Homo sapiens: one gene and its partners. The protein of the gene in region 2 purifies or fractionates together with the protein of the main gene of each other region. This does not show direct contact. Each region holds a gene or a part of one and is shown on either strand. Other genes may lie near its edges.

Region 1 (3,745 bases), on a different chromosome or scaffold from region 2:
ACAAAAAAAACAACAGGAGATCCAAGAGATCCCCTGAAACCTGCCTTTGTTCCCTGCTCTAACCTAACCACCACCCCCTCACACCCCTGCAACAATTTCTCCACTAGAGGGCAATAAAAAATCTTGAAAGCTGCAGTGGGGTAGAAGAGTTGCCCAGAGGCCTGGCCCTTAATTCTAACACCCTACTCCCCTGGCCTCCCCTCCAAAGCTCCTTGACAGTTTGGGTCTATCACATTCTCTGAGCCTTAACATCTTCCTTCAAGCAGTGACCATCTCCAGCTAGGGTCCTTACTCCCAGTTTCAGCAGAGGAAACTGAAGGACTGTGACTTGCCCAAGGGGAGCCAAGGCCTCCCCCAGCTCATCTGCCTCCTTAATGTCACAAGGGGCCCAGGGCTAGACCATATGTGGCTGAGGCGGGGAGCCCAGGCTCTGTCCTCCAGTGTGGCATTCTCACTGCGCTTGTGGGGAGCCTTCAGCTGCCCTACCTTGTGAAGCCAGAGACCTGGGGTTGGGGACCCTGAGGATTAGGTCTGGGGCTCTAGCTGCAGGAGCCTGGCTGAGATCCTTCATTGCCTAGGGGGGTCTCCTTGATGGGACTTACTCAGGACCCCAGGGGATCGGTTTGGAAGGGGCAGTCCTATATAGGGGTTAGGGATGGCAGGGCCAGAGGTCCCAGCCTCTGGCGAGGGGCATTCCCTGGCCTCCTCTGCCCTGGTCCCAGTCCTTGGGTACTGAGAGGGAGACTACAACAAGGAAGCACTAGGACAGTCTACTTACTCCTAAGATGTCACTCATCCTACAACATTCATCATAAGACCAGTCGCACCCAGAGCCGTAGTGAGGCGGGTGAAGCTGCAGATAGATAGATGATAGATAGATAGATAGATAGATAGATAGATAGATAGATAGATAGATAGATTTTTTTCTTTTTTACAAGAGTGTCTCTCTGTTGCCCAGGCTGGAGTGCAATGGTGCAGTCACGGCTCACTGTAACCTCCACCTCCCGGGTTCCAGCGATTCTCCTGCCTCAGCCTGTAGCTGGGACTACAGGCGCGCGCCACTATGCCCGGCTAATTTTTGTATTTTTGGTAGAGACGGGGTTTCACCATGTTGGCCAGGCTGGTCTCGAACTCCTGACCTCAGGTGATCCACCCCCCAGCTCAGCCTCCCAAAGTTCTGGGATTACAGGCATGAGCCACCGCGCCCGGCCGATAGTTATATTAATCCTTTCTTTCATTTATGGATCTCAGGAAAAGGGCAGACTTGGTCGGGAGAGTAGACCCACCAGAGCTTCAGATTCCAAAGCCCTCCGGGTCAGGGTAACTGCGGCAACCAGAGCCCCAGCCCTCTGGTCTCGCACGTCACTGGAGGATAGGGGCTGGGCCACGGGAGGGCGGGGCGCGCCCTCTGGAAGGCGCGGAACTGCTGTGCGAGCCGAGCGCGTTGCTGCCCGGAGGCTCCTACGCCACGGCCCGTCGGGCCCGGCGCCGGAAGTGAGCTGTTCCGAGGCGCCGCCGGGAGCTGCCACGTCCGAGACCTGGAGCAGCCACCGCCGCAATCATGGTGAGTGTTGGTACTGAGGAGGCCTAGCAGGGTGAAGGCCACGGTCGCGGCCTTCACGGGTTCCTCGGCCGTCCTGAGTCCCAAATCCCAAGCTGGAGCCGTTCAGCTCCCCTCCACCGCTTAGAGATTTGGGGGGCTCTGGCCCCGTCCTTGCGGACCATTCCGAGGGGAGTCCAGAGGTGAGGCCGAGGAACCTCCCTGACTTTGCGGGGCGCGCCGCTCCTGCGTCTCCTGCCAGTCTCCCTTCCTTCTTTTCGGTCAACAATTGAAAACAAAACGAGGAACAGCAGAGGAGCTACTGTATACCGAGCCCTCAGCATTGTTCGTAATCTCCGCCTGCTAACAGCCTTGTGAAGAAGGTGCTATTCTTCTCAACACTTTACAGATGAGGACACTTGAGGTTCGGAGACGTGGAGCCTCTTGCACAGCTGCTTAAGTGGTAGTAGAGCCGAGATTTGAACCCTCCTAACCATTCCTTTCTGCCGCCTACTGCAGCTCCCAGCAGAGATGATTGAACTGTTGCTCGGGGTAGGGCCCCCAGGTAGGATGGGCACCTCGGGAAACGTAAAGATGGCCTGAACGACCCTCCGAAGGCAGGGGCTCAGGGTTTTTTAAGTCTCTGTGGCATCTGCAGTGTACATTCACTCCACACTTACTCCTTGAGTGAATGAATGACTGAAGGAGAACTAAAGAATGGAAGTATCTGGGCTGAGCCTGGAATATCTAGTACATGCATTCTTTTAGAAACATGGGTGTGTCTCAGCAGCAGGTTTGAGGGAACCTGCAGGAACCTAGAAATCAGAACACTGTGTTCTTGTTCTGCAGAGGGTTAGGTGTAAATCACTCACCTCTGGCTCTTCCACTGCAGGTTAGAGTTGAGGCTTTTATGCTCTGACATTCAGCTCATCCTAAATGAATTTTTAACTCATTATCTGATCTCAAAGAGGTGAATTATTTTGAGTGCAGGTGTTAACAGGGACCAGATAATACCAGGTCCCTGGGAAGAAGTACTCTAAGAAGTTCTCTCTCTCTCTCTCTCTCTCCCCACCCTCCCTCTCTCCCCACTCCCTCTCCCTCCCCCCTTCCTCTCCCTCTCCCTTTCTCTCTCTCCCCCTCCCTCTCTTCTCTCTCTCTCTCCCCGCTCCCTCTTCCTCCCCCCTTCCTCTCCCTCTCCCTTTCTCTCCCGCCCTTCCTCCTTCCTTCCGTCCTTTTCTCTCCCCCTCCCTCTTTCCTCCCCCCCCCCCCCCCCCGCCTTCTCTCTCTCTCTCTCTCTCTCTCTCTCTCTCTCATTCAGAAGTGTGGTTCATCAACCCTGACTGGTGGGTGAGAGTGGTTAGAATTAAATGCTGATTATTTCTAAGGTCCTTTGGTAACCTGGTTGAAACTACCTCTCAGTAAACTTTCTTCGTGAACCTACTTAACCGCAGCTTTACAGAACTCAGTGTAACAACTGCTTTACATTCTAGACAGGCAGCCTGGTGGAGTGAAGTTTTGTGGACTCAGCATTAGAAGGTTAGGGGATGGGGCTCTTTTCCCAGGTCTGCCTTGAACTAGCTCTGTGACTTTGGCAAGTGCTTTCTCTTCTCTGGGCTTCTTCATTTCCTTAGTCTGTCGCAGGTCTCTGATTGACTGTGCCCTTGGTACCCTGCCCTCCCCGCCTTCCTGTGCACTTTGTAACCTATACAGCTCGGCACATGGAGGAAACTCCTTATTGTCCTTACTTGCCTTTGCAGACTTCGGGGACCTGGTTTTTAGAGAGTCTAGAATCTGATGAGAGAACCTGTGCTTACTTGGTGTGTACCTCTTGAACTGCTTTGCAGCCATCCTCTTCCACTGTCTGCCTTTCTGAAATCACAAGTCAAACTTTATACCTACAGGGCTTGTGCTGGAAAAGATGAAATGGGGAAAATGGTAAGAAATGTCTGTTCCACACTGAAACTTCTTTTAAGTCCTCTTTTCTATCCCAAGAATTTAAGAGAAGAGTGGTTGAGCAAAGAAAAAAAATAACAGCTTTTGTTCATTTACTTATTCATTCAGCAAATAGTCGCTGAGTTCCTTCTATTTGCAAAGCACTGTGCTGGATGATTTGAGGGGATTTGAAACTGCAGATGGCTCAGACCATGGCTCCAAGGAGCTCACCTTCTAGTGGGGAGAAGAAACAGCATAAAGTGTTGTATGTGT
Region 2 (3,645 bases):
ATAATCTCAGCTACTCGGGAGGCTGAGGCAGGAGAATCGCTTGAACCCAGGAGGTGGAGGTCGCAGTGAGCCGAGATCGCAGCACTGCACTCCATCCTGAGCAGCAAGAGCGAAACTCCATCTCAAAAAACAAAAAACCCTTCACCCCACACACCCACCAAGAGACATCACAGAGGGAGGGAGTTGGGGTGCTCTGCCATTTGCCCCTCCCACATGGGAATAAGTGGCAAGCACATTCCTTTCTCTGCCTTTATCCTGCAAGGCTCTGATTTAGCCAAGCAGCCTCCACTTCACTGGAGGGAGGGAGGTGGTTGCTGCCTGCACCCACCAGGGCATTTGCCTCCTGTTCTGACCATTGCTCCGAGCCCAGCCACACTCATTTATATCCCACAAGCAGGAAACTCAAGAAACTGTGGTGGCCATTCCCTCTCTAGCTCCCCCAACAGAGAAGCAAAACAGACACGTACACGTAGCCGATGATATCAGCATCTGGCTGCTGGTAGAATGCTTTGTCAGCGATCCTTGAGGGAAAGGTTGAGGGAAGGGGTTAGGTGGGGGAAGGCAGATGGCAAGACAGACAGGCAGGCAGAAGGTTAGAGAGAGAGAGAGAGACAGCATTAGTACCTCCAGTGGGAGAAATGTTAGGAAGCATAGTTCTGGAAGGCTCAGCAACGACCCACAGCCCCAAACAGGAGAATGGGGACCTTCACCCTGGCCCCAGCACCTTCTCTAAAATTCATCCCTGATCATGTTACTCCTGTTCAAACACCTTCAGTGGCTCCCCACTGCCCATGTCACTGCCCAACTCATCAGCCAAGGCCCTTACAGTGTGAGTCCACAGGTTCCTGCCTTCTCTCCCACCGCTCCCTGGCCCCCTGTTGCCTAATACATCACATTTTTTTCTTCGTACCCAGGTCTAGAATGCCCCCCTACCTCCTGCCCTTTTTTCCCTTTTTTCCTCCTAGTCATCTTCCAAAGCCCAAGTCCCAAGACACAGAGGTCTCTCCCTGACCTGTTTCCTTGCTTCCATGGCCTTCGTGCAGAGGGCCCTACTGTATTTGAGCTTAGTTGAACATGTGTGTTTTTCTCCTCTGCGCCCTTTGAGGACATAAGGCTGGGTCCTCCTTATCTCCATCTCCTCCGTGCCTACCCCAGAGCCTGGCATGCAGCAGTTCCCTAGACAGAAGGGTAGCTTCCCAGAACAGGCCTTTCCCTTCCTGGAAGACCTTGTACCGTGAAGGACAGAGCCTCAAAGGCAGGGAGCACTGGGCAGTGTTCAGTCATGTCCCCACAGCCCCTCTCATGTCCCCATAGCCCCTCTCATGTCCCCACAGCCCCTCTCATGTCCCCACAGCTCCCTCTCATGTCCCCACAGCTCCCTCTCATGTCCCCACAGCCCCTCTCATGTCCCCACAGCTCCCTCATGTCCCCACAGCCCGTCTCATGTCCCCACGGCCCCCTCATGTCCCCACAGCTCCCTCATGTCCCCACCCCTTCATGTCCCCATGGCCCCCTCATGTCCCCACGGCCCCCTCATGTCCCCACAGCCCCCCTCATGTCCCCATGGCCCCCTCATGTCCCTACAGCCCTCTCACCGGTTGTTGATCTTGTTCTTCTCTACTTGTTCACTCTGGCGCTGGTTCCACTCCTCCAGGTCCTTCTTGGCCTTCTCCCGCCATTCCTGTTCCGTGACCTTAGATGCAGCATCTAGGACCCCACAAGAGAATGAGTGGCTGCTTTCCAGCTGGGATGCACAGGCCCGGCCGCGCTCCTCCCCTGGCCCCTGCCAGGCAGCCACAGGGCCGCACCGGCCCAGTCCCACATTAAGGCATGCAGCATCCCATGCACTCCGAGGACTCCCCACACTCCACCCCACACACAGCCCACCCAGCCAACCCCGCCTCAGCCCCGCCCTCACCCAGCTCTTGCAGCCGTTTCCTCTGCTCCTCTCGCCACTTGCGGATGCTCTCAGGCTCCTGGGTCAGCCTGTCAGCCTGGGCAATGGCTGCGTAGCCATCAGCAGGACCGTTGGCCTCCTAGAACACAAACACGCAGCAGTCTATCCAGCCAGCACACCTGCCCCGCTGTCTCTGCTGCCCCTGCTGGGGACCCACTCATGTCTGGATAACTCAGCCTCAAACAACCTCATACCCACTGTCTCTGGTGACTACACCTATCTTTGCACTTGCTGTTCCCTCTGCCAGCAACACTCCGCCACCTGTGTGACTGCGGGCAAGTTACTCACCCTCTCTGTGCCTGATCATTGCCTCTGGCCCAGTTATAGGTTTTGATACCCCCAAAGCAGAAGACTCAAGAAAGCGTGTGCCAGCCACTTTCTTTGTCATAAAATGGGCTAAATAACAGTATGCACTCTGATGGGAGGACATAAGGATGAAATGAGTTAAAAATTATAAAGAATGTCGGGCGCAGTGGCTCACACCTGTAATCCCAACACTTTGGGAGGCCGAGGCGGCAAATCACCTGAGGTTGGGAGTTCAAGACCAGCCTGACCAACATGGAGAAATCCCGACTCTACTAAAAATACAAAAAATTAGCCAGGCGTGGTGGTGCATGCCTGTAATCCCAGCTACTCCGGAGGCTGAGGCAGGAGAATCACTTGAACCCGGGAGGCAGAGGTTGCAGTGAGCCGAGATCACACCATTGCACTCCAGCCTGGGCAACAAGAGCAAAACCCCGTCTCAAAAAATAAACAAATAAAAATAAAAAATAAAAATACTGCTTGGCACAGTGAGTCCCTTGTGTTACCGTCATTAAAATCACTCTCTATTGTGGTTGTATTAACTCCTAACACTTAGTCCAAAAAGACCTCAAGACCTCACTTTTTTTTTGAGATGGAGTGTCCCTCTGTTTCCCAGGCTGGAGTGCAATGGTGCAATGTTGGTTCACTGCAACCTCTGCCTCCCAGGTTCAAGCGATTTTCCTACCTCAGCCTCCTGAGTAGCTGGGATTACAGGCACACGTCACGACACCCGGCTAATTTTTTGTAGTTTTAGTAGAGACGGGGTTTCTCCATGTTGGTCAGGCTGATCTCGAACTCCCGACCTCAGGTGATCCACCGGCCTCGGCCTCCCCAAGTGCTGGGATTACAGGCTTGAGCCACCGTGACCAGCCCAAAAGGACCTTACTTTATAATGTGTTTGTCTGTCTCTGCCATCAGAATGTCATCTCTGTCCTTTTCACTGCTATGTCCCCAGAGCCCAGCACAGTGCCTGGCCCAGCAGATGCTCAGTAGATGTTTGTTGAGTAGAGAAGCATCCCTGAGATATGCAGCATGATCATAGCTCAGATCACACCATGGGAAAGAACTTGGACTCTGCAGCCAGGCTGTCTCGGTTCAGATGCCACCTCTGATACTATGAAATGTTTGTAAGGCCTGGGAGAAATTGCTTAACCTTGCCTGACTTTTGTTTTCTCATTTGAAAAATGGGGCTGGGCATGGTAGCTCATGCCTATAATCCCAGCACTTCGGGAGGCCAAGGCAGGAGGATCACTTGAGGCCAGGAGTTTAAGACCAGCCTGGGCAACACAGCAAGAGTCTGTCACTATTTTCAAAAAAGTTTTTTTAATTATGGAAAAAAAGGCCAGGCACGGTGGCTCACGCCTGTAATTCCAGCACTTTGGGAG
Region 3 (3,645 bases), on a different chromosome or scaffold from region 2:
GGGCGCTGCTGCTGTCCACCTACATCAAGTTCATCAACCTCTTCCCCGAGACCAAGGCCACCATCCAGGGCGTCCTGCGGGCCGGCTCCCAGCTGCGCAATGCTGACGTGGAGCTGCAGCAGCGAGCCGTGGAGTACCTCACCCTCAGCTCAGTGGCCAGCACCGACGTCCTGGTCAGAGCCCTGTCCCCCCACCCCACCCCTCTTGCACACCCCCTTCCCGCCCTCCCCTCCTCCTGACCCGAACTGACCTTCCCCACCCCGACCGCGCCAGGCCACGGTGCTGGAGGAGATGCCGCCCTTCCCCGAGCGCGAGTCGTCCATCCTGGCCAAGCTGAAACGCAAGAAGGGGCCAGGGGCCGGCAGCGCCCTGGACGATGGCCGGAGGGACCCCAGCAGCAACGACATCAACGGGGGCATGGAGCCCACCCCCAGCACTGTGGTGAGTCCCCTGGGGTGGGCCCTGCCAGGGTGCCTGGGGCTGGGTCCTGCCGGGCGCCGCCTGTCCTCACCGTGACCTGCGCTTCCTACAGTCGACGCCCTCGCCCTCCGCCGACCTCCTGGGGCTGCGGGCAGCCCCTCCCCCGGCAGCACCCCCGGCTTCTGCAGGAGCAGGGAACCTTCTGGTGGACGTCTTCGATGGCCCGGCCGCCCAGCCCAGCCTGGGGCCCACCCCCGAGGAGGCCTTCCTCAGGTAGCACCCCCTGGGCCCGGGCCCCTTCTCGCGGCCACCCCCAGGGCTGTCCCTTCTCGGCCTCTGTCCCCGTTTTCCCTGAGCCCCTCCCCCGCCCCCGACTCGCTCCTCTCTCCATCCTGATGCCTTCGCCAGCCCTGGCTGCTGCCTCCCCTGCCCCAGCCTCCCTGCTCACGCCCTCCCTCTGCCACTCTGGACTCCGCCGACCCTGGCCACCCTTCGTTGTCTCCTTTCCTGTCACCGTTTCTCAGCCTGCTCTTCCTTTTCTCCTTCTCTCCTTCCCTCTTCCGTCCCTCCCTCTCTGTCTCTCTTCTGCCCTCTCGCTGCCTATGTGGAATTGGCTGCCTGCCACGCCTGTCTTCTCTTGTCTGCTCTGGGATTGGATGGCTCAGCGAGCTGGAGCCGCCTGCCCCCGAGAGCCCCATGGCTTTGCTGGCTGACCCAGCTCCAGCTGCTGAGTAAGGGGTGGCCTGGGGTGGGAGGTCGGTCGGGGGGGCGGACTCGGGTGTCCCCAGGGAGAGTTAGGGGACTGGGAGCCCTCGTCAACGGGTTCCTGATGAGCAGCAGAGGCAGGGACTTGGAGGAAAGGGAAACTTGGTGTCTGCCGATGCGGGGGCACGGGCCAGGGTTCTATTCCCATTGGAGGCCACTGCTGGATGGATGCGAGGTTCCTCGAGGCTCTGTGAGGGGTCTGGATATGTGGTTCTGGGGTTCTGTCCTTAGGGCTTGTTCTCGCACTCAATCGCTCTGGGCCTTTGCCCCTCCCCACCAAGTTCCTTCCCATCTCACTCTGCTCCATGCCTCCAGCCCAGGTCCTGAGGACATCGGCCCTCCCATTCCGGAAGCCGATGAGTTGCTGAATAAGTGAGTCCTGGGAGTGGTGGGGGAGGGGAACGGGACAGGTGCGGAGCCCAGGCCAGGTGCAGACAGGCACCCCCGTCATCTTGCGCCCCCTGCCCCCTCAGGTTTGTGTGTAAGAACAACGGGGTCCTGTTCGAGAACCAGCTGCTGCAGATCGGAGTCAAGTCAGAGTTCCGACAGAACCTGGGTGTGTCCCGGGGGACTGTGGGAATGGGTCGGAGGGAGACCTTGGGGAAGGGGTCAGAGGGACTCAGATGGAGCTCTGCCTCCCCCACCTACTGCAGGCCGCATGTATCTCTTCTATGGCAACAAGACCTCGGTGCAGTTCCAGAATTTCTCACCCACTGTGGTTCACCCGGGAGACCTCCAGACTCATATCCTCTCAGGCCCGGCCCAGCCTCCTGCCTCTCCACGTCGGCCTTCCTCACCGTGGGGAAGCCGGCTGACCCAGGTCCACACTTCTCTTCAGCCTCTCTTGGGCACGCAATTAGTTCTCTGAGATTGAGTGTCTGCATCTGTTAAGATGGGGGTGGGATTCCTTCCCCCAGGACAGGGGATGACAGTGAAGTGGTGTGTGGGAGGCTTTACTTCCAGAACTCCACCTGCTCCAGGCCTCATTTTGTCCCTGTCTGGCACCTTCCGTGTCCTGCCATCGTCCTCCACTGGGCTCCATGTCATGATGCCAGCACCGCCTGCACTCAGGAGCCAGGCCTGCGGGTCCAGACGCTGATCAGGCCTGATCTGGGCTGAGTCACTTTGCCTCTCTGGGCTCTCCTGTCCCCGCTGTGAAGTGTATGTAGACCCTCCTCTTCCTCATAGGGTTATTGTGAAGATCAGAGTGTCTGGAAAACCCTGGAAGGGCGGCTGGAGGTATCAGTCCCCCCTGCCCGTTCTCTGGGCCTCCATTGCCACATTCATGAAATTAGAAAAGCTCGACCTGAAAACTCCTTCTGGCCGGGCATGGGGGCTCACACCTGTAATCCCAGCACTGGCAGGCTGAGGCCAGTGGATCATTTGAGGTCAGGAGTTCAAGACCAGCCTGGCCAACATGGTGAAACCCCATCTCCACTAAAAATACAAAAATCAGCTGGGTGGTAGTGGCACGCGACTGTAATCCCAGCTACTCAGGAGGCTGAGACAGGAGAATCGCTTGAGCCTGGGAGGTGGTGGTTGTGGTGAGCCGAGATTGTACCACTACACTCCAGTCTGGGCGACAGTCTCAAAAAAAAGAAAAAGAAAAGAAAAAATTCCTTCTTCGGTCGGGCACGGTGGCTCACGCCTGTAATCCTAGCACTTTGAGTGGCCAAGGTGGTTGGATCACGAGGTCAGGAGATCGAGACCATTCTGGCTAACATGGTGAAACCCCTTCTCTACTAAAAATACAAAAAATTAGCCGGGCGTGGTGGTGGGCGCCTGTAGTCCCAGCTACTCGGGAGGCTGAGGCAGGAGAGTGGCGTGAACCCAGGAGGCGAAGTTGCAGTAAGCCGAGATTGCGCCGCTGCACTCCAGCCTGGGCGACAGCGAGACTCCGTCTCAGGAAAAAAAAAAAAAAAAATTCCTTCTTTCATAATTTCCAGAGGCTCGTGCAGGCAGCTCAGTGGAGGCAGTGACAAAAGAACATGAGACCCAGGCCTTCCCAGTGGGCTACTGACACGGATGCAGATGATGATAACACTAATTGCTACCATCTTTGTGTACTTACCATGTGCCGGGCACACAGACAAGTACTTGTGATGGATTCTTTTCTTTTCTTTTTTTAAATAGAGTTGAGGCCTCGCTATGTTGCCCAGGCTGGTCTCAAACTCCTGGGCTCAGTGATCCTCCCCACCTTGGCCTCCCAAAGTGCTGGATTACAGGCGTGAGCCGCCACACCCGGCTGGATTATTTCATCAACTCCTGAGGACATTTTACACATGTCCTTGTGTTGAGACAGGGCCTCACTCACCCAAGCTGGAATGCAGTGGCATGAACACTGCTCACTGCAGCCTCGAACTTCTGGGCTCAAGGCATCCTCCTGCCTCAGCCTCCCAAGTAGCTGGGACTACAGGTGCACATCACCATGCCTGGCTAATTTTTTTGTAGAGATGGGGT

What was found.
Region 1: the proteins of CLTB (region 2) and SEC13 purify together in Homo sapiens (affinity purification with mass spectrometry; 2 studies listed by BioGRID and IntAct, with this or other methods). This does not show direct contact.
Region 3: the proteins of CLTB (region 2) and AP2A1 purify together in Homo sapiens (affinity purification with mass spectrometry; 2 studies listed by BioGRID and IntAct, with this or other methods). This does not show direct contact.

What each region holds. Positions count from the first base shown.
Region 1 is NC_000003.12:10,318,869-10,322,613, reverse strand, and holds the start of SEC13 (protein SEC13 homolog), read left to right. Parts: upstream 1-1,501; 5' UTR 1,502-1,561; coding exon 1,562-1,564; intron 1,565-1,572; exon of another isoform or gene 1,573-1,743; intron 1,744-1,949; exon of another isoform or gene 1,950-2,105; intron 2,106-3,297; exon of another isoform or gene 3,298-3,334; coding exon of another isoform or gene 3,335-3,475; intron 3,476-3,745. UniProt on the Homo sapiens protein: Functions as a component of the nuclear pore complex (NPC) and the COPII coat. At the endoplasmic reticulum, SEC13 is involved in the biogenesis of COPII-coated vesicles.
Region 2 is NC_000005.10:176,396,012-176,399,656, forward strand, and holds part of CLTB (clathrin light chain B), read right to left. Parts: intron 2,037-3,645; coding exon 1,919-2,036; intron 1,708-1,918; coding exon 1,596-1,707; intron 522-1,595; coding exon 468-521; intron 1-467. UniProt on the Homo sapiens protein: Clathrin is the major protein of the polyhedral coat of coated pits and vesicles.
Region 3 is NC_000019.10:49,801,449-49,805,093, forward strand, and holds part of AP2A1 (AP-2 complex subunit alpha-1), read left to right. Parts: coding exon 1-173; intron 174-273; coding exon 274-441; intron 442-532; coding exon 533-693; intron 694-1,085; coding exon of another isoform or gene 1,086-1,151; intron 1,152-1,500; coding exon 1,501-1,557; intron 1,558-1,658; coding exon 1,659-1,741; intron 1,742-1,838; coding exon 1,839-1,928; intron 1,929-3,645.